Regions from separate parts of the Homo sapiens genome. Here all the other regions are linked to region 1. Evidence: fine-mapped expression QTL. A gene starts in region 1. Each other region holds a variant in brackets. All regions are shown on one strand. Distances are from middle to middle.

Region 1 (7,817 bases):
GGCAGATACAGAGATTATTCAGATAGCATTTCTTTATAGCAAAGCTATGTATTTTTGTTAAATTAAAGTTATCCTTTCAGGTTAAATACCACAAAACCATAACCTTTCACATTCCTTTTTAATCTTTTGATGATTTTTACTGGAAGGATAATTTTAAAGATCATTTTATCTACTTTTTTTTATTGTGTAGCCTATAACAGAATGAATTAGAGAAAAGACAACACTGTGATTTTAGCCACAAGACTTCCTAGCTCCAGAAAGTTAGGCTTCTGCTGACATGTCAGTAAAATGGTAATTAAGAGAAAAACATTACACAACTCACCCATTTAGCTTACAGTTTTATTTGTCTTTACTTTGATCAAAAGATGAAGATGGGGCAGAGACAATCTGTACTCCTTTTTGTCTGCTCATCCCTCATCTGTATAGATTTTTTAAATGGGTACACTTTTTTTTTTTTGAGACAGAGTCTCGTTCTTGTTGCCCAGGCTGGACTGCAATGGTGCAATCTCAGCTCACTGCAACCTCCACCTCCCGGGTTCAAGCAATTCTCCTGCCTCAGCCTCCCAAGTAGCTGAGATTACAGGCATCTGCCACCACACTCGGCTAATTTTTTTGTATTTTTAGTAGAGATGGGGTTTCACCATGTTGGCCAGGCTGGTCTCAAACTCCTGACCTCAGGTGATCCGCCCGCCTCGGTCTCCCAAAGTGCTGGGATTACAGGCGTGAGCTACCACGCCCGGCCAATGGGCACACTTTCTTACACGTATTTCTCCTGACTCATCTTCATAAATGACAAACCCATTGTTTAACACCATGTAAAAGACAGGATAAGGTATGTTAAAAACATAGAAATACTACCATAGTTGGTGAAAGTCAACATAACCATTCCTATATTACAAAAGGAAAACAAACCTGACCCACAAAATAAACATACCTACAAACTTACAGCCATTCTTCATGATTTAAGGAATTACTAAAAGTTCTGCTTATTAGGCCGCATTCCAATGGACAAAACTACCTAGGTATGTTAAGTTTGCAGCAGAATATCCCAGTAAGTACTGCATTCAACTATCATAACCTTGCTCTAAACCAGAGCTTAATAGTTTCACGAGAATTTAAAATTTTAAGTAATGGTATTTTGCCTATAGCTGCATGATTGTGTTACCTTGCTATTCAGTAACTATTTTTCTGAATGATATCAGGAGGGTGATAAAAGGAAATAAATTATTATTAAAAAGTGTACAGGTCTGAGACATTAGAAAACTTTGATTTGTACTTTTGCTACTACCCACCACAACCACTTTCCTCTAAACCTTGTTTTCCTCCTTTTTAAAATAAAGGGCTGAATTACCTGTAAAATGTTTCTCACCTTTGAGAAGAATCATACAATTGAATGATTCTAAGTACCATAACAAATTTTATTAGGGATAAGGACCCCATTACATCTTTCTCTTCCTTGTTTCAAATGCCGCCAGAGCAACACACTATCCTAAACATCCAAGTAGGCCAATATAAGTCTATCAATACAAACCTATTCTCAGAATCCAACAGGCTAAAAGGGAATAAAAACAAGGACTGGCATATTTTTGTCATACATACTTCAGCACTTAATATCTCTACCTATACAACTTCATCCAGTCTGAGATAAAAGAGAATCTGGTCTTCTACAAATAGACATGTGTCAAATCCTTTAAAAGGTACTTCTCTATTTCAACAGAGACCAGGATTCAATAATTCCAATTTTCGGAAAACCAGACTTGCATCAAAATAAGTTCCATGTTTGTGGAAGAGAATAAATAGTAAGTGGTACTTTTAGATGAATCACTTGGTCTCCTCTTAGAACTAAGTTTAAAATCAGCCTTTAAAGCTGTTTTCCCTCTGCTGATAAAGATTTCCCTCTCCAAATAAAGATTTTTCTAGATTCTATTTCAGGAAGGAGACAAGAGAGTGGTAAAACAGCTAATAACTAGTAAAGCTAACTCTCAGTTGGTTGTCAGTATGGTATGTTTTACTGAGCCTTTGGGTTGTAAGGGCTTCTGTGAGGAATAAGGTCCTGCAACGCCGCCTGTCTGTGGACCCAGGAAAAATTATAAAGTTATTATGAAACCAGATCACTAGGACAAACCGAGAGGCCTTCCTATTCCAACTCACCACAACCAGGCCTGGCTCCAAAGCCTACCCTTTGGCTGTCCCATATTACGGGACAACAGGTCCTAGCTTAATTCTAACTCACTAAGGAAACATTCGAAGGCATGTATGTATGTACGTGTAAGGATCAAATATATTTTTCATCCACTTACAAATGTATATGGTCATTTGTAATTATTTAAAGTTACTGATAAATTTATACAAATACAGCATCAGTTCATCGAAAATCCCTGGGAGATCGAGGAAATGAAGTTACTTCAGCAGCCAGGATAGTTACGAAAAACCCTGCAGAACAGTATGGAAAAGTACAGCTTCTCACGTGTCCCTCACATACACAAACACTTAGCTCTGAGTCCATTACAACCTTACGTCCCCCCTCAAACTGCTCCCCTCCACCTCACAACTGGGAGAAGTTGATCAACCTCCTAGTTGGTCCCCAAGAGACTCATTTACCCATTATTTTACTCCTCCCGCTTTGATCCCGATCCCGCCTCAGACTAAGGTGGCCCTACTGGCCCCAGGCAGACCACCCCCCCACCCCCCGGCGTGCAAACAGGGAATCTAACCAATTCCCTCCATCCTTAACCAAGTGAGCCATCCCATGATAACAGGCTGTTCACCAACTCTGTGAACTCCGTGGTCCTCCCACCCCCACGTGTCAGCTACCCTCCCCCACATTCCCACACCTCACGATTTAGGCCGAGGGAAGAAAGGGGGCAGTCGAAAGCCTGGCCCCTAAGAGATCAACCCACTGGAATCTGTCCCACTCCAAATCCCCTCCCACCTTCGGCCCCTATCCCTTACAGTCCCTTCCTCCCTCCTTCCTTTGAAACCAGGCCCTTGCCTCAGAAACCTCCTCTTCCTCGTCGTCGTCGTCCTCTTCTTCCTCGCTGTTGTTACTGCTGGTGCCGCCGCCGCCACCTCCGCCTCCACCGCCGCCTCCACCGCCGCCGCTGTTGTCGCTGTCGCTGCTGCTTTCGCTGCTGCTGGGGGGTCGGCAAGTCCGGTTACGCTTGGCCTTGTGGTGCTGCTGCTGCGGCGGCTTCTTCTTCAGGAGCAGGTCGCAGACTCGCACCATCCCACGAGGAGACGAGGCCGAGCGAGCTCTGCTGCTGCCGCCAACGCCGCCGCCGACCTCCGCCGCCGCGGGGGGGCCCGCCACAGCCGCCACCGCCGGGGGGCTCCCTTCTCCTTCTGCAGCCGTCGCCGCCGCCACCGGAACCGTCGCCTTCTCCATCCCCAGGGAAAGAGGGAGGGCGCGGACGGGGGAGGGGCGTGGGGCTACGCTCTACCGCGACTTCGGCCGCACTGGGGCCGACACAGCAATCGGTGCCGCCTCCGCCGCCACCGCCTCGGTCACCTCTACTGCCGCCGCCGCCGCCGCCGCTCCGCCAGCTCTCACCTCGTCTCGCGATACTAAGGGCGGGGAGCCTGACGATGGGAGGGAGGGAGGGAGGGAGAGGGAGGGAGCAAGGGAAGGAGGGTGAGGCGTAACAGGGAGACCGGGTGTCGGGAGAACCAGAGGAGAGGAGACTGGAAAGAAGCGGGGAAGTGTGCCTGGGGCAGCTTCCGAAGGGGAACGGCGGGGACAGATGAGGGGGGCGCGATTGCAACCAGAGCGCCCGCGAGCTCCCGGATTTCTTCTCTTTCCTCGCTATTTCCCGCACACACAGCCCTGCAGCCCTCCCTTCTTCCTTCCTGGCTTGTGATTAGAACGCAGCCGCAGGCGGAAGTGCAGTGACGCCATCAGCCGTCGCCTGAGCCGTGGCGCGCGGGTGGCCGAAAGGCGAAAGTGAGATTTCAAGGGCCGGGTCTGGGGCCCCGCGGGCGCGCAGTGCTGCGGCGTGTGGGGAGTACGGGGAGGCTGGAGAGGAGCCGGCCCCGGGCAGTGTGAGGTGCGGAAGCGCGGTCCAGACACTTTGCTGACGGGAGGCCGGTCCGCCAGATCCGGGAGGTGGGGCCTCGTTCTGGACTGCTGTACGTAGTTTTATTCCTGGTCATTTTTTTCCACCGCCAAATCGAGAGATAGAGCTTTGGATCATGAGAGATGGCGTCGTGTTGGGAAAAGAGCCTTCTTTACCTGAGTTTAAGCTCGGCTCATAGACATCCTCTACCTGAGTTTACACGTGTGTAATATGAAGGCAGTCGATTAGGAGATGTCTAAGATCATTACTTACACCTCAAGTTTCCAAGGGGAGGAAGACACGGGAAGGATGCGTGGTCTGTGCCAGACTTTGTAGACGATTCACTGAATGACCCTGATTTAGCTCTTCCGGCCCTCTTCGATTCAGCTTGGAAGCAAGCATAAATAGTGATTGTTGTCTGTATACTTCTCTCGGAAGGAATGCTGTTATGGGAGTTGTGGGTTCATTTTTAGGTGTCTGAAGAAGTTTCAGGACTTTTGAAATGATAGTGGAGCCCATTGAACTCAGAATTATCCCTTTCTGGTCTAGTAGGAGTATAGTGGCATACGGAAAATGAAGCAAACATCAAAGACAGATGTACTGGCACAAGATTAAAAGTATGTCTCAGCTGACATAGTTGCCATTTTAAGACTGCTTAGTTTAGCTGAATATGCCTGGATTTTTTTTTTTTTTAGCATTTTTTTTCTTTTTAGCATTGGCATACCATATGAAATGTGGGCAGTTGCCAGTACTCTACAGAGTACCAAGGCAGAATTGGCAATGACTAAATCAATTCATTCAAACAAAAATTCATCATGTGCCTACTGTGCGCATAATTTGTGGAATCAAAGTCTCTTGTTTCCAGGGGCTTTACAGTGTAATAAGTGCTATAGTAAATATATATACGGAGTGGTAACCATCTGCCTATTCCTCTCCTACAGTCGTTGCTGAGTTCCAGTGTAGAACAGAGCACTGCATTGTGTATCTCACCACTACTGATTTAGATTTTATAATTTCAGCTGCATCCCTCCCTCCTACTTTGTATATTCTTCAGCATCTTTTTCTCCCTTTCCACTTGAATACTTTTCGCAATCTTTAAATCCCAGCCCATTTTATTATATGACTTTTAACTTAGACTTCACAATTTTCCAAGTGCTAGAAATTTCCTGAGATTGCCTTTTCTCCAGTATCAACGAATGAGAGACTCCCTGTTCATATATGAGATAAACTCTTCATACATATTCTAGTTCCAATACCCCTCTTTCTCATGCATTTATTATCTTTTCTGTTGTCAACCTTCTACAAATTCTGGTTCCTTAGCTAATTCTTCTGTAGCTTTCAATTATTTCCTTCACAAGCAAACTTTCTTTCTTTAAAAAGTATTCTATACTCAGGAGGCTGAAGCAGGAGAATCGCTTGAACCTGCGAGGCGGAGTTTGCAGTGAGCTGAGATCCTGCTACTGCACTCTAGCTTGGGCGACAGAGCGAGACTCCATCTCAAAAAAAAAGTGTCTACAATCAGTGTCTTTTTTGTTTTCTGAAATTGACTTGTCAGCCCTCTGCAGTCTAGTCTCTGTGTCTATCGTGCTGTGCTACCAAAAATGCTCTCTTTAAAGTAATCTCATTGTTTGGAAGAAAATGAGTTTTTTGTTCTTTAATATAATAGTGAAATGATGATCCTGTTTCACTAGTAGGATAAGGTTCAAAACTATTAAAATGGACAAGGCATGTAAAGTCACTTTCTTTTATTTTTATCTTTTTTTCCCCCCGTTAGAACCTCTGGCAGGGACTGACTAGCCCATGAAACTTATTTCTTCTTCCCGGGCACACAGCTAAACTAAATTTCACAGCTTTCCTTGTAGTTGGTTATAGTCATGTGATGAACTTCTTTTTTTGAGACAGAGTTTAGCTCTTGTTGCTCAGGCTGGAATGCAATGGCACAATCTCAGCTCACCGCAACCTCCGCCTCCCGTGTTCAAGCGATTCTCCTGCCTCAGCCTCCCAAGTAGCTGGGATTACAGGCATGTGCCATCACACCCGGCTAATTTTGTATTTTTAGTAGAGACACGGTTTCTCCATGTTGGTCAGGCTGGTCTCGAACTCCCGACCTCAGGTGATTCCCCCACCTCGGCTTTCAAAGTGCTGGGATTACGGGCGTGAGCCACCGAGCCTGGCCGTGATTAACTTCTAGCCAATTAAATATGAATGGAAATGATGTGCTCATTTTTAGGGTTAATGAAGTCCTCCTATTCTCCCTTACTCTTTCTTCGTCAACTTGATGCCTTTGAGCATGGTGACCTTCAAAACTATGTATTGGAGATGCCAAAGCCAGAAAAGAGAAGAATGAGTGGCTGAAACAGTACTTGGAAGACAGCCACCCCAATTAGAAACACCCCTTTTTGCACTTACTGTAAGAGAAAAAATTGAGATTTGAGAATTTATATGTATAGGAGCTAGAATGACCATAGCTAGTCCAGAAATTGGTACAAGAAGTGGAGTACTGCTAAAACAATAACCTAAAATATGTTACATCAGCTTATTTATGATGCAGCAGGTGGTAGAGAATGTGATTTGGAGGCTAGAAAAAGGAGGCCCATGTTTGCAGTGGCAAAGTAATTAGTAAAACTGTCACCTGAAATAATTCAAAATCAGATCACCTATCTGTTTAGATTAGCTCCAGAGGAAATGATTGAAAAGAGCAAAAGTAATACTGTGTTGAATTTTACATTTTACTTTTAGTAAGGTTTTACTAAAGAGAGAAACTCAGGAAATACTTCACAGAAGTGAGAGTGTACAGGAATATTTCTCAGGAAGGGTTGGAAAAGTTGACTTTTATAAGACTTCTAATAAAAAAAAAAAAAAAACTAGAAGAGGTCTTGAGTATAGTTACCCTTGAGATTAAGTCCTGCAACAAAGATCAGGAAAAGGGTTTGGTCTTTCCATTCAAAGTCATTATTTTAGATGGCTTCAAGATAGCTACGATAAAGGTCTAAAGGAACTGGCATAGGAGCAAGGCAGCAAAGCAGTAAATTAGGCTTGATAATTATGTAAGAAAGAACTTTGGGTGTAGTTACCAGAAGCAAATCAATCAGAAGACTACATTTTTAGAGGAATTTTATTAATCATACTAAATCTGGCTCAAATATCATTGTTCGGGTGTTAAAACAGAGGGTAACTGTCCAACCCCAAGCTTGCATAAGTAGAAAAATAGAGCATAAAACCTTAACAGCTCCCCAGTACCCACACAGGATGTGGCCATGGAGAATGATGGACAAAAAAAGAACATTTCAGAAGCTCGTATAAGGAGCTGTACTAAAGACTGGACAGGGAGTTTCTCCTGAAGACTAGAATTGGAGTTTCATCAGAACTTTCTTCAGTTTCAAGGAGATGGGCCGCAAAATGTTTATGCAGTATTTCATCATTATTATACATGAATAGTATTGCTCAGTATCACATTTTTTTTCTGAATGAGAGAATGTATTATAGTTATCTGTCCCTGAGTTACCACTATATATTGGGTTTGCAGGGATGGGGGTGACAATAAAGATAATTTGTCTTTTTAGTTCTTAGGTCACATCTGTACCTAATGAAGAGAACTGCACATTTTCTGAAAATCCTAGACTTTGAGCCTGTTCCAGTAACTGGTTAAAACTTTAGATTGTCTCCTTTGGGACAGGGTATGTTCTGTGTGTGGAAAGACAGGTAAAATACATGTTTAGTGATCAGAATAGTAGATTCTTGCAAATGCTAAATTCTTCTGGCCAC
Region 2 (7,817 bases), 520 kb after region 1:
ATGTTAGATAAACATGCTGAAGTGAAGAGAACTTATATAATGTACTCATTATTATATGGCTAGGAAGCTACAGAGCTGGGATTCAAACCTAGAAAGTGTCAGTCTGGTACAAAGTCTGATTTTTCCTGTCAAACATTATTCTACCTTGCCTTTCTATGAGATAAATAAGTAAAAAGATACATGAAAGTATATTGAAATAAGAGAACATGTATATAATATTGAGCAGTAAGGCTTGACACTCCGGATAGATGTAAAATAAATTGTAAAACATTTCTATTGAGATTCAGTGGAATTCAAAGTGTCATCTAAACAGTCTAACATTCATCTTAACACAGTGAAAATTTCATTCATCTGCAGTAGGTATTTAGAATATATAAGTATTTGGAATATACAGGTATCTAAAATATGACCGCTACTCATCAGTTAAAGAATCCCAGACTCCAATAGAAAAATGGACAAGAATATGAATAGGCAATTCACAGAAACTTAATAGATACTTAGTTTCATTAGTTATCAAAAAAAATCAAACTTAAACCACTATGAGATAGCATTGCATATCCATCAGATGGTCAACAACTGGTAAATCTGGTAACACTGAATTTTGGTGAGGATATGGGAAAATGGAAATTCAGACATGGCTGGGGTAAATATAAATGCACATAACTTTGGAAATTGGCAATATCTAGTGAAAGCTGAAGATATGCAGAACTTACCCCAGCATTATCCCTTCTGCGTCTGCACTAGAGAAATCTTCAACCATGTACATAAGAAATTGCTATAAGGATGCTTGTGAAGCAGTGTTGGTAATAGCAAAAACTATTGAACCTCAGGAGTAAAATTCATAAACAGTGCAATGATAGAGTTAAAATGAAACTACTCAATCTAACTGGTTAAACAAGGGTAAACCTTTAAACATACTTCTGAGTAAAAAAGAATACAAAATGCTACATCCAGTACAATGTCATTCACGTAGATGTTAAGCACTAAATACTATATAGAGAAACATGAATCTATGGTAAAAGTTCAGAACACTAAAGAGAATGATACTATCATCACAGGATTTGAATAGTGAAGAGAGAAAACTGGCGAATGGGACTTTAGAGTCTATGTATTTTTTAATTAAAAAAGATTGGAATCAATTATAATCAAATATTAATAGAGCTAATCTCAGAGGTGGGTAGATAGGTAATGGTTATATGCACATATATTTTACTTTTTTGAATAAAATGCTTTATAATTGAGGTCTAAAAGGGTAATATGTGTGGAATTTTTTTTTTGGCAGGGGAAAATAAGGGGATTTAAATCATTTCTTCATCAAAAATCCCTTTGAACTTTTATTTGCCAAACTTCCTTCTTCCTTGTTATGAAGATTAGTAACTCCAAACCATATTCACTTCTGCGGTTTCATTCTGAAAAAAGAAAATTTGGCTGGTTTAGATAAAGCATTCCATTAACCTACATTCTGAACTAGATGTTCTAAAAGGAAGTTATTATTTTCTCTGGCAGAGATGAAGGGAAAAGCCAAAACATTTTGATGTTGACACAGCTTTTGGAGAAGTGCCAAAAAGGTCACTGAGTCTGTGATCCTTCATGGTGTCCGCAATGTGGGCCTTGCAATGATCCCAGTCCTGCTTACCACAGGGTGCAGGTGTCTTTGGAGCTGAGTAGAAACATTCTGAAAACATGCATGTTGCTGTCCCTGGATAAATGCTTAATACTTAATGCACTGCTTTTCCTTGGTCTCAAAATTGTTCTTAAACTTACTTTGTGTGGCTATCTCAATGTTTATAAGCCAAAGAAAGCCAGCTACCTATTGCTTACTGATGGTACACTGCATGTTAATTTATTATTTTTGGCTTACCTAATACATTTATATTTTATAAAATGGATATTTTTTGAAGGTATAATTGTGTCAAAGTGTGCACTTTTGGGTGGAGAAGCAAAAGCTTTGTCTCCATATATAAAGATGATGGATCCTATCTTACATACTTATCTTCAATACCTTTACTGTCACTGAATAAATGTTCCTTAGCACTTACCATGGCAGTTTTATTAAACACAAAAATGTATGATCTTTTTCAGAGGTTAAAAAAAGTATAATCTGTATTATTTGAAACATTAGTAAACCAAAGAAATGCTTACTGAAAATTATGGTTCAATGCCTAAAATGTCTATTTAATTTGTTTTACATAAAGCCTCCAGAAGGTGGATACAGTTGATTTTAAGTTAATTAATCTCATAAATCATTGTAAAATAAACAAAAGATTATAAATACAGTAATTTTGATAATCTGCTTTAAGTTACTAGAGAAATATTAAAAGCATGCACTTTTGCTTTTTGATATACTTAATTTGAAGTAAATAATGCATGTTGAGCCAAAACAAATACAACTTTACCTCTGAATCGTATTTTAAGATTAAGGGGAAAAAGCCATAAAATAATTAACATATTTTCATTTCTCTATATTTTAAATTGATAAAATTTTATTTCAATAATGATGAAAAGTCACTAAGTACATTTTAGTCTTTTTTTAAATTTAATACTTATAAACTGTATCATGTACTTTGAAAACAGGTGAAAATCACTTAAAATTATTTTATTTAAATTGTATTTTCCAGAAGAGTAGGTTGTGGGTTAGTCGTCTTTGCAATTTGTCATGCAATTTGCTGGGATGTCAGCTTCAGCTGGGCTCGTTGTCATCTTGGCCTGAAAAACAGCAAATGATGAAGCAAAGTGTGAGAAATTGTCTCATATTTTATGGCTCACTGAGTGAATGAATCAACTCAGGATGCTGCAGCATTGCCTGCAGGAGTCTGTGTCTGTGAAACTGCTGAAATTCCAAACGGAGTAGCTGATGGACTCTGGGCAGTATTCATGGTCCAAAAGGGTGTTGGCTTTCCTCCCCAGATTTAAGAACTGTAATTTTGAAATGAAGATGACATGTCATTTTCCATTTGTGACAAATCCTAGGAGCTGCTATACTGGTATTCTATCTGAATAAGGATATAAAAAAGATCCAAGTATACCTTCTACAAAGTAAAAACATATCCTTTTGAAGTGTCATGTTTGATGAGTTTTGATAAAGATATCAACTCATGTAGCCACTGCCACAACCAAGATATAGAATATTTACATTATGCTCCCAAAGTTCCCTCTTGCCCATTTTTAGTCGGTCACTCTGCCCCCTACCAGTCCCAGATAACCACTGATCCAATTTTATCACTATAGAATTTTATAGAAATAGAATAATGCACTAGGCACTCTCATTGTCTGACTTTCACTCAGCATAATATTTGTGAAATTTATTCATGTTTTTGCAGGAGCTCATTCCTTTTAGTCTCTGAGTAGTATTTCATACTATGGGGTTATACCACAATCTTTCCTACTTTCATTGTCCTTAGTTTTTTATTTTGTTACTGAAGTTGCTATGAATATTTATGTCCAATACTTTTTTGGACATATATGCTTTTATTTATCTTGGATTAAATACCTAGAATTGATATTACTGGGTCATGAACCTGTATAGATAATTTTAAAAGAAACTGACAAAGTGAGTTAAGAAATTGAGAAGGAAACTAAAGTTTTTTTGAAACACATGAAAATGGAAATGCAATTTATCAAAACCTATGGAATACATTTAAAAAGTACTAAACTTAGTGAAATTAGCACTTTTTTTTTTTTTTTTTTTGAGACAGAATCTCTCTCTGTCGCCCAGGCTGGAGTGCAATGGCTCAATCTCGGCTCACTACAACCTTTGCCTTCTGGGTTCAAGGGATTCTCACGTCTCAGCCTCCCAAGTAATTGGGATTACAGGCACCTGCCACCACGCCCAACTAATTTGATTTTTTTTTTTTTTTTTTTTTGTATTTAGTAGAGACAGGGTTTCACCATGTTGGTCAGGCTGGTCTCTAACTCCTGACCTCAGGTGACCCACCCACCTCACCCTCCCAAAATGGTGGGATTACAGGTGTGAACCACTGTGCCCAGCCAAATTAGCACATTTTATATACTGTGTTGAAATTCACAGGAAAGCTTGTCTTCTGTAAATGACTTTTGAATACAGATTTGTTCAGACATCTCTAACATTACACATACTGTACTGGTCCACTGGATTGAAGGCAGAGAGAAGGAAGGGAGGAGAGAATGGTTCAAGGCCAAAATGGTCATATTTAGAAGATACCTCAGATTATAACCATTATTATATATGTGCAATTTTAACATAGCAGAAAAGTTATATGAAATTTCCAGTCTTTCTACATATTTAGAAGTGCTTGATGCATTTAAACGTAGAAGTAGTAGAATAACACTTCTTATAAATAGCTATTAAAAACTGATGGGAGGCCGGGCATGGTGGCTCATGCCTGTAATCCCAGCACTTTGGGAGGCCAAGGTGGGCGGATCACCTGAGGTCAGGCGGTTGAGAGTTTGAGACCAGCCTGATCAACATGGAGAAACCCTGTCTCTACTAAAAATACAAAATTAGCCCAGTGTGGTAGCGCATGCCTGTAATCCCAGCTACTCGGGAGGCTTAGGCAAGAGAATCTCTTGAACCCGGGAAGTGGAGGTTGCAGTGAGCCAAGATCGCGTCATTATACTCCAGCCTAGGCAACAAGAGTGAAATTCCAT[C/CAA]AAAAAAAAAAAAAAAAACCAAAAAACTGACGAGAAATACTGTGCTTGGAAGTAGAATTGTTAATCCACCTCTGAACAGTGAACAGTGTACTTTCTATACTTGTTCATTGGGTTGAGGGAGATGGGAGGGAAGAAATTGCAAAAGGCATTTTGCTAGTGTGTACTAGAAAATGTCAGCTTATCCATTGTCCTTTATACCCAAATGCCCTTGACAGTGCATTTTATTTAACTTAACTATACTGTATATACTGTATATATTGGACAAATGAATCCTAATTTTATAATATCTAGTCACTAGATATTAGAGATTGTCAATGTATGACAAAAGGAGAGTTAGTAAACTAACACATTTTGTACATTTTATGTTAAGATGTATACAAAGATTGTATTTTGAAAAAGACTTCAGGAAGTGAAATGATAGCATCAGCTTTGACACATGTGCCCATATTTACCAGGTTGTTCGTAGAGAGGAGTTGAAAGAAATAAAGGATTCTAGACCAGAACGTTCCTATTTAGAAAACACTTTCAGATATAACAGTTGTTACATGTGTGTAGTTTATTCAACAATACTGTGTATATAGTAAACAAACTTAAGTCTTTATTTGAAACAGCTAGTCTTTCTAGATATTTAGAAGTACATAAATATGTTAAAAGTAGAGGTAGTAAATTTCCACATTTTATAGATAGCCTTTTGATATAAAATATTGTCCCTTGGAAAGTGATCAAACCACTCCTCTGAGCAGTACACATTATTTGTGCTGGTACAGGGAGGAAGGAGGAGAAGAAAGTGCAAAGGCCTTTACACCAGTGTGTTTATGGTGAGGCACAATTGACCACTGTTCCTTGTATCTACATTTTCTTTTACTTTGCTGTGTATATAGTATATATAAATGGGCAAACGTATCCTAATTTACAACATCTAGTCTTTCTAAATGTTAAAGAGTTTGACAGTGTATGACAAAAGCAGAGGTTAGTAAACTAATAAATTGAGAACATTTTGTTTTAAAATTCATAAGAAAGACTATTCTTAAAAACACTTAAAGAAGTGAAATTGTTAAATCTTGTCTAAGCATTACAAATGCTTATACCTGTCAACTGTGTTGATAGAGGTAGGAAGGGGAAGGGTTCTAGGCCAGAATGTTCTTATTTAGAAGACACTTTCAAATATAACCTGTGTTATGTGCACCACTTATTTAATGCTACTGTGTCTATGGTGGAAAACTTAAGTCCTATTTGAAATATCTAGTCTTTTCACATGCTTAAAATTGCACAACATAGTTTAAAACTAGAGGGCTAAAGTAACACCCTGAGGTAGTTTTTTGGTTAATTCCTAGGAGTGGTTGTGCTTGGGAATGCAATTGTTAAGCTTGATGTTTGGAGAGTATGCTGACTGTTTATTGGGTGGCAGCAAGTCAGGGGAGGAGAAAGTATGCATGCAGAAGTGTTCCGTGCCTGTAAGTTTGATTAGGTCGGATGTTCTAACCATTGTTGTATATGTGCCTTTTAGTTAGTACTGTTATGTATTAAAGGATAAATAAGTCCTAATCCCCAAAGTATGTTAAAAGTAGAGGTAGTAAAACAGTTCCTACATAAATGTCTTCTCACTGGTTTTTGGGAAGGCCTGTCTTCTGGGAGTGACTTTTGTTAATCCAACTCTTGGAACTAGATGTAGTCCTATATTTAGTCACTGGGATAGTGGAAAAGGGAAAAGAGGAAAAGTGAAGGGAAGGGCTGTTTGTTAGTATCTCTACATACAGAAGAGGGTTTTAGATGATGTATTAGTCGGTTCTCATGCTGCTAATAAAACCATACCGACGACTGTGTAATTTATAAAGGAAAGAGGTTTAATTGACTCACAGTTCAGCATGGCTGGGAATGCTTCAGGAAATTTACAATCATGGTGGAAGGTGAAGGGGAAGCAAGGCACTTACTTCACAGGGCAGCAGCAAGAAGTTTAAGGAGGGGGAATGCCAGACAATTATAAAACCATCAGATCTTGTGAGACTCATTCATTATCAGGAGAACAGCATGGGGGAAACAGCTCCCATGATTCAATTACCCCCACCTGGTCCTGCACTTGACATGTGGAGATTATGGGGATTACAATTCAAGGTAAGATTTTGGTGGGGCACAGAGCCAAACCATATCAGATAATAACCGTAGATCTATATGAGCATTGTTAGTAAAGCACCTAAGTGTATTGTGAACAAATTTAATTATTTTGCAACATCTAAGCTTTATAAATGTCTTGGGGTAACAATGTATGATAAAAAAGTAGAGCTAGTGAATTAACCAATTTGTAAATTTTTTTTGTTATAATTGATAGAAAAGATACGTGTTGGACATAGAATTATTAAACTGCCTCTGAGTAGTGTGTGTAAGGATTTGTTCATTAGGTTGGCATCAGAAGGGCAGAAGCAAATACAAAGGGAAAGATGTATGCAGATGTTTTCATATTTACATTTTGACAATAGCCATTGAGGTATGTGCATCTCTTGTGGTTGTACCATAGGAATACATTAATTAATTCAGTGGAAACATACATTCTTATTAATATTTTAATGGTATAGATCTGCTAATGAATTCTCTTAGAAACATACTTAGTATATTCTGTTGCATTATGTTTCATTTTAAATTGAGCATTAAGAGAATACAGTATTTTAATTTGAACTCTTTCAACGCTTTTATCTATAAGCATGTTGTCATTTTTGTCTTCTATGAAATTTTTACCCCAAGAAAGGCAGAATTATGTTTTTGTTTTCTTTTTTCCGACAGATTAAGTTGGTGTGATGTATTTTATTTTTGTTTGTTTGAGTTGGAGTCTCGCTCTGTCGCCCAGGCTGAAGCGCAGTGGCACAATCTCGGCTCACTGCGGCCTCTGCCTCCTGGATTCAAGCAATTCTCCTGCCTCAGTCTCCCAAGTAGCTGGGATTACAGGTGCCCAAAACCACACCAGGCTAATTTTGTATATTTAGGAGAGACGGGGTTTCTCCATGTTTACCAGGCTGCTCTCAAACTCCTGAGCTCAGGTGATCTGCCCAGCCTCCCAAAGTGCTGGGATTACAGGCGTGAGCCACTGAGCCTGGCAATGGTGTGGTGTATTCTTGATTATCAAAATACTCCTATAGCTTTGGGACTTTTTATTGGTAAATATTCATGATATTCATTGTAAGTATTTAGTATATATCGTG
Region 3 (7,817 bases), 170 kb before region 1:
TAGTAAAACGGAAACAATATGACAAAACTCAGGAAAGTGTTAGAAGTAAAAGAATATTTTAGCTAAAGACCAAATAAAACCAAATTCTGCAATTATACATGCAGTAGAAAACAGACAAAAACTACAAGGAATACACAGACATGTAAATGTAAACACAAAGATAAATAACAAAAGCTTGTTTTTTAAAAACCTACATATTGAAAGGCCACACCTAAACCTCTAGGAAAAATCAACCCAGAACAACTAACATCAAGACATAGTCAGGGCAGGCAGGCAGGAAGGAAAGAAGGATAAACAAATGAATCCTGCTTTCCCCTAGGTTCATCCCTGGGAGCCTACCTTAACCTCTGTGTTCACTCTGGTTTCCCTTTTATTTCCTGTATCCTTCTAGAACCAAAGTAGAGCAAAATAACAACAACCTTCCACATTGTTTTGTTTTTTATGAGACGGTCTCACTATGATGCCCACACTGAAGTACAGTGACTATTCACAGGCACAATCACAGTGCACTGCAGCCTCAAACTCCTGGCCTCAAGCCATCCTCCCACCTCAGCCTCCTACACATTCTATTTTAATAAACAGAATTACTAGGCTTGCCCGCTGAGCTGCGCCATTTAAGAAGTTTACTCTCTGCACAGATTCTGCCACCCCTCTAGTCATAGTTTTTATCAGATGACCCTGTTTTCTGCTCCCTCTCTGCACAACTATTGGATTAAGGATAGGCACCCATCCAAGTTTTATTTTAGGCTAGTCAGTAATCTGACTGAAATGGTCTGACTTGAACATATGAGCTGAGCCAATCACATTCCTCATCAAAGAATGGGGAATTAAAGGGTTAACTGGTTTAATTAATTATGAAGTTGAACCACTGATGTGCATATACAAGGTAAGATTATGAAGAAGTTTAGGTGTAAAGAGAGCAGAATGCAAGAAACTGACAAGAAACAGACCATGAGTGAGAGACCACAAATCCTCTAAGAGAGAGAGAGAGAGAGAATAGCTATCCCTAAGTCCTGGACGGTTTGGAAAATGGTTCTGCATAGCCTTATATAAACATCATTTTCCATGAGAGTCCCTGGATGGGCCTATATTCCTTTTCATGAAAAGAACCTAACTAAAATAATTTTCACATCTCTAATTATTATAATTACTTCAATTAGAAAAAAAGCAAAATTTAATTCAGAGCCATGTTATTTAAAAACATCAGCTTATATATTAGAGAAACAGGTTTCAGAGGATGGGGCAGATCTAGGTTTTGTGGGGCCTTAAACTTACAAAATTTTGGGAACCTTTTTTAGAAGAATGAAAAATTACAAATAAAAAAATCATGTACAGCACTTGGAAGTACCCCATAAAATGAAGTGGCCTAAGGATTTAAGTTTCACTGATACCACGGTAACTTCACCACAGTTTAGAAATGATAACAGAGTCCTGAGTTAAAATTGAAAGAGCAATGTGATTTACAAATTCAAAAAGTGGGGCCACTGGGTGTGGTGGCTCACACCTGCAATCCCAACACTTTGGGAGGCCCAGGTGGGCAGATCACTTGAGGCCAGGAGTTTGAGATCAGGCTGGGCAACGTGGTAAAACCTCATCTCTACAAAAAAAAATTTAACAAATTAGCCAAGCATGGTGGTGCACACCTGTAGTCCCAGCTACTTGAGAAGCTGAGGCAGGAAGATTGCTTGAGCCCAGAAGGTGGAGGTTACAGTGAGCCAAGATTGTGCCACTACATTCCAGCCTGGGCAACAGAGAGATACATTATCTTTTTATTTAAAAAAAAAAAAAAAAAAAGGGGGGCCAAGCGTGGTGGCTCACATCTGTAATCTCAGCATCTCTGCATTTTGGGAGGCTAAAGTGGGAGGATCTCTGGAGATCAGGAGTTCAAGTCCAGTCTGGGCAACATGGTAAGACCTCATCTTACAAAAAATAAATACATAAAAATAAAATAAAAACATTAGCTGGGTGCTATGGCAAGTGCCTGTAGTCCCAGCTACTTGGGAGGCTGAGGCAAGAGGACTGCTTGAGCCTAGGAGTTTGATTGAGGCTGCAGTAAGCTATGGTCACACACTGCTGCATTCCAGCCTGGGTGACAGAGACAGAACTCGTGAGAAGAAAAGGAGAGGAGAGAGGAGAGAACAAAAAGTGCTTCTACAGTAAAATTACATGAAAAGAAAGGAGAAGAACAAAAAGTGCTCCTACAGTAAAATTACACTGCACATTTCTCACAGTTTAGTTCAGTGTTTATTAAACATACCCTGAATTTAATCAGGAAGAAATAGTAGGAAATAAAAATAAAAGGCATTCTAGCAAACAACTGGCTTGTAGTCTTCATAAAATGAATCTTTCTTTGAAAGTTAAAGAAAGACTCAGAGAACAGTTCTAGATTATTTGAGACTAAAGAGATATGGGAATTAAGTGTAACTTGCAGTCCTAATTAGAATCTTGGATGAGAGAAAATAATAAAGTTATTGAGATAACTGATGAAATGTAAATATGCACCATATATTAGATAATAATATAAAATGTAAAGTTTGCTGAATTTAAACACTGCATCATAGTTGTTGAAGGGAACATTCTTATATTTAGGAAACTAAGTTATTTAGGGGCAAAAGGGCTTGACGTCTACAACTAACTGTAAAATAGTTCAGGAATAAAATAATTTTACACACACACAGAGGAATATATGATGAGGAAAGGAAGTAATGCAGTTTAATTGGTGAATCTGGGAAAAATATACAAGGGATCCTTGTGGTATTCTTGAAAGTTTAAAATTATTAATTACAAAATCTGAGAGACATAATCAAATGCAATATGTGAGCCTTGAGTGGTAGTTCCTGGTTCAAGAAAGAAACATCTATAAAAAACGTTTTGGAATAATTGAAGATATCTGAATATGGACTGATTAATTCTTACTGAATTCATGTTAACCTATTAGGTATTTGACAATGGTATCATGGTTGCATAAGAAAATATCCTTATTCTTAAGTGATGCATGTTTTTAGGTCTGAAGTGTCATATCTGCACCTTATTTACAAATGGTTCAGCAAAACAGTAGAGAGAGAAAATAAATATAACAAAATAATTGGGAAATTTAGGCGAAGGAAATATGGATATTCCTTGAACTATTCTTTAACTTTTCTATGGGTCTGAAATTTTTTGTAACAAAATAGTTACTGGAATGTGGCAACAATAAAAGCAATTGTAATGCCCTCAATGATACTCTGTATTTACAATATAGCACTATATTCAAAAGCATGTATTAAAAAACCTAACCTGGGTGGTGTGGTGGTACACGCCTGTAATTCCAGCACTTTGGGAGCTGTGCAAGGATAATTAATATTCTATATGACTGCCACTATTTGACAAACACAAGAAAAACTATGAATATATAAATTCATTGCAGGCTACAATTTACCTCATGCTTTAACTGGCAATGTACTCTGACATGTATCTCTAAAATAATTATAACTCTTTACTCTTTCATTAAGTTAATTAGGTTAACTGTTATTTATTCCAGTATTGCTAGTTAGAAGAAATTTGATAGTTAAAAAAAAAAACAAAACAAAAAAAAAAAAACCGAAGTCTTACTATAACTTCCTTAAGGGATAAGCAATTTCACATCTTTACCTGGAAAACAAACATATCCAACCTTACTACAGAATTCTCTTAGTTGAGTTGAATTCTCTATTGCTGACTGATCTTCATTAGTTTGAAAATCTAGGCCTGGTGGCTCACACCTGTAATCCCAGCAGTTTGGGAAGCCGAGGTGGGCAGATCATGAGATCAGGAGTTTGAGACCAGCCTGGCCAATGTAGTGAAACTGTCTCTACTAAAAATACAAAAATTAGCCAGGTGTGGTAGCACATGCCTGTAGTCCCATTTATTCAGGAGGCTGAGGTGGGAGAATCGCTTGAGCCATTGCACTACAGCCTGGGTGACAGAGTGAGACTCCATTTCAAATAAAAAAAAGAAAGAAAGAAAATCTAATCACTGCTTCAAAAGTCTGCCTGTAGTTAAAAAACACATGTGATAATGTGAAATCTGTTGTGTTGTTAATGCAGATGAGATTTTTTTTTTTTTTTGAGATGAAGTCTTGCTCTGTTGCCCAGGCTGGAGTGCAGTGGTGTGATCTCGGCTCACTGCAACCTCCGCCTCCTGGGTTCAAGCAATTCTCCTGCCTCAGCCTCCCAAGTAGCTGG[G/A]ATCACAGGTGCACACCACAACGCCTGGCTAATTTTTGTATTTTTAGTAGAGGCAGGGTTTTGCCATGTTGGCCGAGCTGGTCTTGAACTCCTGACCTCAGGTGATCCACCCGCCTTGGCCTACCAAAGTGCTAGGATTACAGGTGTATGCCACTGTGCCCAGCCTAGATGAGATTTAAAGGTGGACTAAAAGGATGTAATTTTCACTCAAGGGTAGAAATCTTTCTCCTTGGTACCTGTATTCTCAAAACTAAAAGTAAACATAAATTAATAACAGGTACAAGGATTAATTTTTTTCCCCCAAAAAATGATCCCTCAGGACAGGTGTGGTGGCTCACACCTGTAATCCCAGCTCTTTGGAAGGCAGGAAGACTGCTTCAGCCCAGGAGTTTGACGAAACCAGCGAGGGCAACACAGTGAGAGCCTGTCTCTAATAAAAATAAAAAATAATAAAAATCCCTCTTAGAAAAACTTCAATATTTTAGGTTTGATAGAACCTAGGTTGATTCTAATCATTTAAATACCTAGAAATTTTTTTGAAATTCCAGACTTCTAAGAGTACAAATTACCTTTTTATGGTATTAAAATTATGATGAGGTTTGAAACCTGCTGTTTTTAAGAAAACATATGCAGATTCTTATGGAATTACGGTGTATAAAACTCACCATTTGATGCTGATGAACACGGAGTCAACAAACTAAGCGGGGAAAAATGTTGTCTGTTAAAGTTAGCAGCTGCGGGTGCTCCTCCAAGGGGTGCCCCAGGTCCGTACATCTGACCTCCTGAAATGTTTGAAGCAAAGTTTCCCAAATGTGTTGAAGAAGGTGTTACAGAACCATATGGCGAGTCCATATTGACAATACCTATAATGTAGAAGGTCATCATAATTTATAATAGTTACTCCTGCAAGAAATAGAGATACCTTAAAATTCTAAAAGGCCCTAAATATATTCAAAACTATTTTAGATAATTAAAAAAATCCCGGCTGGGAGTGGTGGCCCACATCTGTAATCCCAGCACTTTGGGAGGCCAAGGTGGGAGGACTGCTTATGGCCAGGCATTCAAGACTGGTCTGGGCAACACATCGAGACCCCACCTCAAAAAAAAAAAAAAAAAGTTCCTGGCTGGGTGTGGTGGTTCATGCCTATAATCCCAGGCATGAATCTCACTTTGGGGGGCCAAAGTGAGAGGACTGCTTGAACCCAGAGTTCAAGGCCAGGATAGACTGCCTCTACAAAAAATTAAAAAAAAAAAAAAATTAGCCAAGTTTGGTGGTGCGTGTTTGTAGTTCCAGTTACTTGGGAGGCTGAGGTGGGAGGATTGCTTGAGCCCAGGAGGTTAAGGCTGCAATGAGCTGTGATGGCACCACTGCATGCCAGCCTGAGTGACAGAGTGAGACCCTGTCTCACACACACAAAAAACTAAACTATGTAGATAATTATAAAAGAAACAATTATCACATTATACTCTTAAATTCAAATTATAATTTACTGGGAACAAATTTAATTCTTGATTTTAGTACTTTCAGCACTAGTGGGCATTAATGTTTTAGTTAAAAAGGATCATTAGTTTTCCTTTACATGGGCTTTCTGTCAAAGTGGACTTTTGTTGCCTTTATTGATCATAAAATTAATGCAAACTTATTTAAAAAATCCAAAACCAAAAACCATATATAAAACAGAAAGTGAAACTTCCAGATGTTCCTATTTCAAAAACGAATGTATGTGTATTTGTGAGAGAGAAAAAGAAGAGGAAGAATAAACGTTTACCTTTAGGGATTTTTAGATAACATTTTTTTTTAAATGTTTATTTTTAGGGATAAAGATAAAACATTTACTCTTCCTCTTCTTTTTCTCTCTTACAGGTACACATTTGTTTTTGAAATATGTTCATTAAAAAAGTATTACAAATGTTTACACACTAAACTATTACACAAGTAACCTATCTGATTTTAGTCTAACGGGTTAAAAATACAGAAAAAAAAGAAAGAAAATAATTGTCAACGATTTTTTTTTTTAATTTAGGAGACAGCTTTCTCTGTTGCTCAGGGTGGAATGCAGTGGCATGTGATCATAGCTCACGGTAGCCACAAACTCTTGGGCTCAAGCAACCCTCTTGCCTCAGCCTCCTGAGTATCTGGGGCTACAGGTGTTCACCATTACACCTAGCTATATTTTTGTTTTACCTTTTATTAGCTTTTATAGAACACATGTCAATATTGGATTTTATGCTTGAACCTGGGAGGCGGAGGTTGCAGTGAGCCTAGATTGTGCCACTGCACTCCAGCCTGGGCGTCCGAGTGAGACTCCATCTCAAAAAAAAAAAAAAAAAAAAAAATATATATATATATATATATATATATATATATATCTGTAGGATTTTAAATAGGTTTAAGGACCAAAGAGTTGTATAAAACTACAGGGCAAAAAAGGGCTGTAGATACAATTCTACAATGAAGAGATCTGATAATTACATACTAACCACACGGCCATGCTTTCCACAGCCAATACTGGAACAATTTATCATTTTTTCTTTTTTTTTAAGGAGACAGGAGATTGCTCTGTTGCTCATAGCTCACCCCAGCCTCCATCTACTGGGCTCAAGTGATCCTCCTGCCTCAGCCTCCCAAGTAGGTGGGATTACAGGTACATGCCACCACACCCAGCTTTTTTATTTATTTTTGTAGAGGCAAGGTCTCACAATGTTGCCCAGGCAGGTCTTAAATTTCTGGCCTCAAATGAGCCTCTTGTCTCAGTCTCCCAAAGTGTTGGGATTACAAGTGTGAGCCACCACATCCAGCCAATCTGTCATTGATAAAATGCAGTGTGAGGTTCAAAACATCACCTATATGATGCTCCTTCCTGAAATATTTGATCTGAATCTAATCATGGATTGACATAATCACTGAATTAAACTTGCCCACAGAGTCAATGTCAAGAATTACAGAGGAAGGCAGTAGAATACTTTAGACAGAGGGAGACCAAAGACACATAACAACCAAAAGTAATGTGTGAATCTTGATTGAGTCTTGGATCAAATGGCAAGGAAAAGAGACACACATAGTCAGAAAGAATATATTTGGGAAAATGGCATTTTATGTTGGGTGTTATTATCAAATTCATCCTCATTTTATTGGGTGCAGTAATAGTGGCATAGCTGTGAAGGCAAACATTGTGAAGATCCATATCAAAGTATTTAGGGGTAAAGTATCATGTTTGAAAGTTATCTTCTCATGATTTGACAAAAGATGGGGAAGAAAAGAAAATAGAGATAGGATAGAAAGGGGGAAAAGGAGGAAAGAAGGATGAAGAAGGGGAGAGACAGGTAAGACAAGACAAGAGAGGGGGAAGAAAAGGAAGCAGCAAAAGAGAGGAAAAAAAAGGAGGGAAGAAGGAAAAGGGGAGAGAGGAAGGGAGGGGAGTGAGGGAGAGAGTTTGAAAAGATGTTAACAAGCAGAGAATATATTAATAAATGTGGAAATACCAAGTATTTACTATGCTGCTTATTCTGTCCTTAGATCTTTATGTGACTTAAATAACTTTTCAAAATACAAACTATAAAAACAGATCTGAGTCTAAAATACAAATAATCAAATTATTTACATAAGAAAAGTTA
Region 4 (7,817 bases), 270 kb after region 1:
GTTTGAAGGAGACAGTATATACACCTTACCTCTTCATGGGAGGATTGTCAAAGTCTCTCTGTAAGAAGAGCATAGTATAGGAGATATTGTTGTAGCCACCTTTGCAAAATACAATTGACACACTTAATATTTATAACTATTGCCTTTACTCCTTTATTGTGTAGATGTAAATCAGTGATTAATTCCAGGTTAAAGGTACTTTTTGGCATGCTCAATAGCCGTCTTTACTTTACAGGAGGAGGTAGAGTACCAGATGGCTTTTCCAAAAGGCATGCTGAAAATTATTAGTAGTTTGATAAAGATTCTGATGAATTCCTCAAGGCTAAATGCAGTGCTGAATTTTCCTTTGTCATCTTCTTTGATCTTCTCAGTGAGAAATTATCTCATCTTCTTCCAAAGCCCATTAGAATGTTGCCTATTTTAAAAGTTGAGTTCTTCATATCATAAATTAAATATTATGTCTAAAGAGTTTCTGGCATATGCTACATACTCAATGATTGCAGGTATTTTCATTAAACCTATTTATATATATTTCTTACCTCCTTCTCCTTTCTTTTCCTGGTGAACTGCAATTCCTTTAGAAGCCAATTCTGAATTTCTAGGCAGAACAGTCATAGTTTTCTTTCGGTTTCAAACTAATTTAAACCCCAAAAACCAGTATTCATGCACAGACTTATTATATTCCATTACCTAGCATTTCTAAAGAATGACTTTTTTTTTTTTTTTTTTTTTACAGAGGTGAGCTTTTTAGATAACTTACACTATTTTAAGTTACAAGGTTTTCATAATCTTAATTTTTTTCAGTGGAAATTTTTTGCTAAATGTGTAATATGCACCTATAATGCTAAGCATAAGCAGATGCTCATAAGCTAGGGATTCCTTTTTCTTCCTCATTTTGTGATGTTTATAGCCTTGCTGCTGCCAGGGTGTCTGTACCTAGTGGCGTTTGCTCCTTTCTCAGAGAAAATTACATAATAGATTGCATAAACATTCTATCTATGATCAGATAATGTGATCTATGAGGGAAAGCCTCAGAGAATCTCTTATGAAGAAGTGAATACATTTGCTTGTTTTTGATTTTGAATGAGTATGATACAACAAAATAATAATAAATTATAAAATATAATTAAATTTTATTTAATAATATTCATTAAATAAAAATATTATTATCATGCCAGTTTTATGGTTTGAATATCACCTTTGCATGCATTTTCTAACTTGTTTTTGAAAACCTCACTGTAAGGTACAGTTACTCATAGTAAAAACAATATGTGATCAATATAATGTTTTTAATAAAAATATGGAGTTGTTCTAAACTTTCGTTTATTTATTTATTTCTTTTTGAGACAGAGTCTGGCTCTATCGTCCAGGCTGGAGTGCAGTGACATGATCTTGGCTCACTGCAACCTCTGCCTCCCTGGTTCAAGTGATTCTCCTGCCTCAGCCTCCTGAGTAGTTGGGATTACAGGCATGCACCACAATGCCCAGGTATTTTTGTTTTTTTTTTTTTTTTTTTGTATTTTTAGCACAGACAGGGTTTCACCAAGTTGGCCAGACTGGTCTGGAACTCCTGACCTCAAGTAATCCACCTGCCTCGACCTCCCAAAGTGCTGGGATTACAGGCTTGAGCCACCGTACCAGGCCCTGAAATTTTAAAATATGACTTATATCCTTACCACAAAGAGATACCAATTTTGGTATATTTTCTTGTCTTATTTTTTTCTAGTCACAGATTTTATTTTATACATGATATGATCACACTGAATATACAATTTTGATTAGAGATTTAGACATACCTACTTTGTACTAGAAGTATATATCTTCTCAAGAATAATGAACATTATTTATTTAACTGTCACCCTTCCCTTCTGTTGAACCATTTTATTTATTTCCAAAATTTTGCAACCCTAACAAAACATGCCTGTACTTCTTTTTCCATAATTATGTTTTTATTTATTTAGAAACATTTCTTGGTAAGAGAGTTGGCAGTAATCCTAAGTTAAAGATATGAATATTTGAGGGGATGAGGGAGTTCACTAATATATATTACAAAACTGGAACATACACTTAAGATTAGGAGTATGAGTATGAGTATGAGATATGTTCCAAATAACACGGTTAGTAACTTGGATGAAAGCAAAATACAACTCTAAGACATTATTGAAATTTGTTCTGGTGGCTCTCTGAACTTTTGATTGCTTACTTTCTTGTGCTCACTTATGTTCTAAATGCTTGAGATTCCGGAACAAGTGATCTTTGGGAAAGAAAGATTTTATAAAACACACCATGCTATACTTCTGCATTTTGGCCTCTTTTAAACAACTCAGTAGAAGACTTTTTAATTTCGAAGAGAAACACAATTTTTATCTTTGTTTCCTTCTTTATTAATAATGAGATTAACTTTTTCTGTTACTGCAAGACTTCTTTAATAAACTGTTTTTTTCTAATCACAGCTAGAATGCAACAAAAATATATTAGAGAATTATCTTTGAGATATCATAATTTATGTGAAATTATTTTGAAAAGTGCTTGTTCATATCTTTTGCCCACTTTTTGATGGGGTTGTTTGTTTGTTTTTTCTTATATATTTGTTTAAGTTTCTTACAGATGCTGTAATTAAATTTACTTATGAAGTAGAAAAAGCAGTGTAAGTTATATCTAGATTTGTAGACTTTGTTGCTGTTGTTAATCACCCCTTTTGATTAAACCTGTTTGAAAAATCATTTATCTCTCATTTTACAAAGTCTGTTAATGGAAACCTGGCTCCTTTCTCTCCACTTATGTTACTTGCCTGTTCTAATAGGGCACATAGTGCCGTAGATGTAGATGAAAAGGCATAATCCTCAACTGCCCTTGTCATCTCCTACTTCAACTTATTCCATCCATTCAAATCCTTTAGTCTCTTTCTCAGAGAACAAAAGATTTTGGATGTTCAGATTCAGGCACTTACTGAATTTTTCTGCATTGTAAAGGCTGGAGGAGAAAAGGTATTTTTTTCTCTTGGAAGCTAGGAACAATTTTGCTCCAACATCACGTGAAACTGAAAAAGTGGGGCTGGGGGTGGAAGAGATTGTTGCCCAGTGTGCTTCTTCCCTGGCCCAGACTGTGTTTCTATACAAGTGGACCTCTGAGGACATACATTTACCTAACATCACTTTCTCCAACTTAGGACAACACTGGGCTTCCTGGAAGCTCAGTTCTCCTTACAGGGCAGGCCCAGACTCCCTATTTCCAGAGAAATTTCAGGGATGTTGCTCAATTGTCAACAGAAGCAAGGGAAACCCAAGCATCTTATACTTTTTGTCTTTATGATAATAGATTTAGCTAGGAAAGTGAGGATGGATAAATTTTGAAGGCTGGTCAACCTTATATTTCATTGCTTATCTAAGCAACTTCTTTTGTTTTTAAATTTAACTTTCATTTTAAGTTCAGGGATACATGTGCATCTAGTTACTTAATTGCTGCACACACTCAGCCTTATCAGCCTTAACCTGATGCCATAATGTAGCTTCAACGTATCACTCTTAGATTTAGATCTTCATCCAATTCTTCTTTCCTGAACCCTTAGTTTATATCCATGACTGCTTAGAGATGTGTAGATGCTACACGGAAGTCTTAAATATCCTTGAGCTCTATATTCACACAGCAAACTATTTGGATTTGCTTTTTAGCCACGCTCCTCAAACCTGTTCTTTTTTCCTGAATATCAATTTTAATAAATTGTGCTACCATCAACCCAGTCTCCTATATTATTCTAGATTATTTTTCTTCACTCTACTTTGTTTCTAAACTAATTGTTGTTTATTAAAATTATCAGTTCTACCTTTCAGAAGTGCTTAAGTCTATCTGGACATTGATTTGGTTCAAACCTCACCATTTTAAAGGTAATTTTTCTCAATAGCCTCTAAATACCTTGTATGTCATTTCCCAAATGTCATGTTTTTATACCTCTAAGACTCTTTATATATAAAGATGAATAGTTCTAAATGCTCTTCTTTTTCTTCAGCTGTTTCAAGCTAACTTCTATTTGTCCTTTAAGATTCAAATTGTTCAAGATCTTCATGGTGACCTCCATCCAGTCTGGAGCCAGTCCCTCTTCTTTCTTCTAAACCATTATATGTGTACTTTTCTTACAACTTCTATTTATAATGTATTATAATTGGTATTGTTTGTTTCACTCTTGGT[ATTGT/A]TTAATTGTTTCACTCTCCAAGTGTGAGTTTCTAAATGTAGAGACTAGCTTATTCACACCCATACACAATTATTTGTGTATATATGTTTATTAGTACATACGGAAGTGTAGTAGTAATAATATACAACGTGTATAGTAAATTAACAAATAGTGATGTGGTTCAGAGATGAAATACTTCCCAAACTGTGATCTTAAAATAAGAACAACAATAGAAAAACAATAAAACTCTCCATTTGTACTTTGTTGGGCTAAACACGGGAACAATAATACAGTCTGTCTCCTCTTATGTTCTTTAAGAGATGTTTGAAAATCTTGTGACACTTGAGTATGGTCAAGCAGAGAAGCTTTCTTTGTTAGAGTGAGTCACTATAAATGATCTCTTTGTTCTCTCAGTTTGCCAGGGATAAAGCAATATAAGTTACCAACTTTTTCTCTGTTTTTCTGTTAAGAACAATAAAAAATAATCTCAGAATGAAATCTTCAAAAATAACTTCTCCTTTTTATGTTTTATAGAGCCAGCTTATAAACTACCCCTGCTCTAAACAGGCTATCCTATCCAGCAAGGTCACTCAATCCTGTGAACAGCCAGTGCCATTCCAAGGGGAAGGCATATTAACTCAGAAAATGCTGACACACCTGACCTTTCATCCCTGCCACTCAGCAGTTCTACAGAAGACCAATTTGTATGCAAACAATTCACTTACAAGCCAGAATTCCTACAAGCATAATACAGTTTTTCTGTAAACTCTTAGTGATAGAATATGTATTTATGAATTCCTTGGGAAGGGTTGCAAACTCGAATGACCACAAGGGCCAGCCAGGGATGGAGTGGGAACTGTGGGCAGGAGGAGATGCTTTGTAGAGTCCAGAGGTGGCAGTGACTGTTCAGCACCAGAAACATTGCCATATGGGAACTCAGACTTCAGGTAGTTGGGTCTCCTGCATTTTGAGAGAAGCTAGAAATGTCTTGGTATTTAAATGTTCACAACTAACATAGGAATTTAAAAAAAAAAGATGAAGTCAAGTGTATGCAGGTTTTGTTTTAAGGGACTTAGAAATAAGCAAGAGCTTTAGATTCATATACTTTGTCAGCTCTTCTGTTTTAATTAACTTAATATCTACTGCCAGACCCTTGGTAAAACATTTAAAGATTAGAGAGTTGGGGTATTAACATCTCTGGTGTGCATTCAGAAGTGTATATTAACTAGGCAAACTGATTTCAATATACACTAATACATTATTGCTGTGGAAATTGTCTGGAAATGGAAATATTTCCAAAGTCCCTTTAGGGAGTGTTATTTAGAGCTAAACAGAACAACAGAATCTCAGTTTTCCTCAAAGTTCTTTGTAGAATAATCTTAGTTATATTTCCAAAATTATATTTGATACTGGTTAATAAAGGTAAATGCTGCCATCTGAACTCACTTATTATAAATGTCTAAACTTGCATTTGGTAGTAAAATGTTGACAGGCACAACTTCCTAGTGGAAAGCACATTGGACTGTGAGTTGGGAAATGTGAGTTCCAGTCCTAGTTTTGAGTGCATAGCTGTGGAATGGAGGTCAAGTCATTTGATTTACCCAGGCTTTTGTGTTACAACTGTAAATTAAGGTGGTTGGAAGATAACTTCAAAGATCCCTTCTATAATTCTGTTCCTTTGAAAATATTCTAGAGTTCGAATTTCTCTTTCTTGTGACATAGAAGAATGTTTAGATTATGTATGGATGGTTCACTTAAAAGTTTATTTGGGACAGGCAGCCAGCACTTTTTTTGAAAAAATGGTCATACTTACTAATATAAAATTTAGTCTTAAAGATTATTAGGAAAAGTGTATTCTCACCAAACACTTGAAATTATTTTTAGTAAAAGTAAATAGAGTCTCTGAGCCAGAAACTACCCGTTGTTAATCAGGATGTTTCGGGCTCAAGTTCTAAATCTGCCACTCATTACTGTGTGACTTTAGAAAGATCATGTAATTGGCCAGATACAGTGGCTTATGCCTGTAATCCCAGCACTTTGGGAGGTTGAGGCAGAAGGACTGTTTGAGGCCAGGAGTTCAAAAGCAACCTGAGCAACGTAGTGACATCCTGTCTCTACAAGAAATTAAAAAATTAACTGGGTGTGGTAGCCCATGCCTGTAGTCCCAGCTACTTGGGAGGCTGAGACGGGAGAACCTCTTAAGCCCAGGAGGTAAAGATTGCAGTGAGGGGTGATCGCACCACTACATTCCAGCCTAGGCAACATTGTGAGACCCTGTCTCAAAAACAAACAAACAAAAAAAATCATGTATTGATTTGATTTTCTTATCTTAAAATGTAGGCAATAAAACCTCTCTTCTAGCTTTCCAGGTTTCCAAATGCTTTAAGGTCAGTTAAAATTTAATAGTCATAATTGGCTTTTGTGGAAAACTTCATGACCTCAGACTTTTATTGTTTACCTTTTAATGTGTTTCATATGATACAGGTTTCCTTATGAATATTCAAAAAGATATCCAAAGTTGGCAGTTCCAGTGATTTTAAGAGTGGATATAGTATATAAAAATGGATTGAGAAAGTGCTACAAATTAGAAAACCCTTTGGAATGCTATAGCTGTGGGACAATTTTCTTAAAAATAAAAAAAAAGCAAAAACCCCCTTTCTCACAAATGATTATAAAAATAGGCAATATTCTAGTGCTATTAGTAGTTCCATGCTTTCGTAAATGATTGTGCATGTTTTTGCTAACTGCAAACACTAGACAAGAAATAAAATTTCCGTCTAAACCACAGGCCACATCACCATACTATAGCAACTCTATGGATGAGTCACTGACTTATGGATTCTGTGTTTCATGAAGCTTCTGCAATCTCTTCTTTACAGTGAATGTAGCTGTTTGCTTGGCATAGTAGCAGATAGCAAGACAGCACAGACTATTAGAGTGGAGGGGAGAAATGGAAGAATGAAGGGCAAAAACATCTCTTGTCCTGAGTGGGCTCAAGCAGGTATGCCTAGCATCTTTCTTTCCCATAAAGAAGGATAAGTGAGAGTGATTTAGCCTCCTGCAGGTAAGCACTGTCTGATGGCATCACTGTTAGGCCTCCACAAGAGTCATTATGATAATAACACCTTACAGGAGAATGACTTTTTTTTTTTTTTTTTGAGATGGAGTCTCGCTCTGTCACCCAGGCTGGAGTACAGTGGCGCAATCTCGGCTCACTGCAAGCTCTGCCTCCTGGGTTCATGCCATTCTCCTGCCTCAGCCTCCAGAGTAGCTGAGTCTACAGGTGCCTGCCACCACTCCCGGATAATTTTTTTGTATTTTTAGTAGAGATGGGGTTTCACCGCGTTAGCCAGGATGGTCTCCATCTCCTGACCTCGTGATCCGCCCGCCTCGGCCTCCCAAAGTGCTGGGATTGAGAATGGACATTTAGAGTTTACAAAGCAGCTTTACAACCAGTGTCCTATTTGATTACAACAGCCTGAGTCACTAAGTACATTTTATAGATGGTAGAGTATTGAGTTTCAAGAGGTTCAAGTGACTTGCCTGATGTCACACAGTCAGTAAGGACAGGGCTAAGTGTGAAATTCAGGCCAACTGTTTGCAAAAACAATAACAATTTTCCCTATAACAGCCACTGCTCGTTAGGATA

Direction of the effects. Positions count from the first base shown, and alleles are read on the strand shown. Sizes are in standard deviations (SD) of each study's normalised expression. Not every link is listed here.
For the expression in non-classical monocytes of the gene that starts at base 3,883 in region 1, allele CAA in region 2 goes with a higher level than allele C (large effect, 1.8 SD a copy in Schmiedel 2018).

Evidence for each region. PIP is the estimated chance that this variant, and not a neighbour inherited with it, causes the effect. A credible set is the group of variants that fine-mapping cannot tell apart.
Region 2: its variant is the best candidate, but not a certain one, in a credible set for the expression of ANKRD17-DT in non-classical monocytes (Schmiedel 2018, PIP 0.77).
Region 3: its variant is the best candidate, but not a certain one, in a credible set for the expression of ANKRD17-DT in whole blood (TOPMed, PIP 0.54).
Region 4: its variant is the best candidate, but not a certain one, in a credible set for the expression of ANKRD17-DT in whole blood (TOPMed, PIP 0.59).

The regions. Positions count from the first base shown.
Region 1 is chr4:73,255,284-73,263,100 of GRCh38, forward strand. It overlaps ANKRD17-DT (ANKRD17 divergent transcript), which reads left to right and starts at 3,883. Exons shown (of 5, transcript NR_187399.1): 1 at 3,883-4,125. It overlaps ANKRD17 (ankyrin repeat domain 17), which reads right to left and starts at 3,515. Exons shown (of 34, transcript NM_032217.5): 1 at 2,993-3,515. The coding sequence starts at 3,385. RefSeq lists enhancers at 667-1,167, 3,568-4,164, 3,767-4,036 and a silencer at 3,207-3,606.
Region 2 is chr4:73,775,025-73,782,841 of GRCh38, forward strand. No RefSeq gene overlaps it. Among named protein-coding and RNA genes, the nearest start is that of CXCL8, 38 kb to the left of the region's middle. The variant C/CAA (reference allele first, on the strand shown) is at 4,627.
Region 3 is chr4:73,080,382-73,088,198 of GRCh38, forward strand. ANKRD17 (ankyrin repeat domain 17) reads right to left here. Exons shown (of 34, transcript NM_032217.5): 30 at 4,868-5,065. Among named protein-coding and RNA genes, the nearest start is that of COX18, 15 kb to the left of the region's middle. The variant G/A (reference allele first, on the strand shown) is at 4,203.
Region 4 is chr4:73,529,190-73,537,006 of GRCh38, forward strand. It overlaps LOC107986287 (a long non-coding RNA gene), which reads left to right and starts at 1,677. Exons shown (of 2, transcript XR_001741722.2): 1 at 1,677-3,884; 2 at 4,703-7,817. RefSeq lists an enhancer at 7,091-7,140. The variant ATTGT/A (reference allele first, on the strand shown) is at 4,186.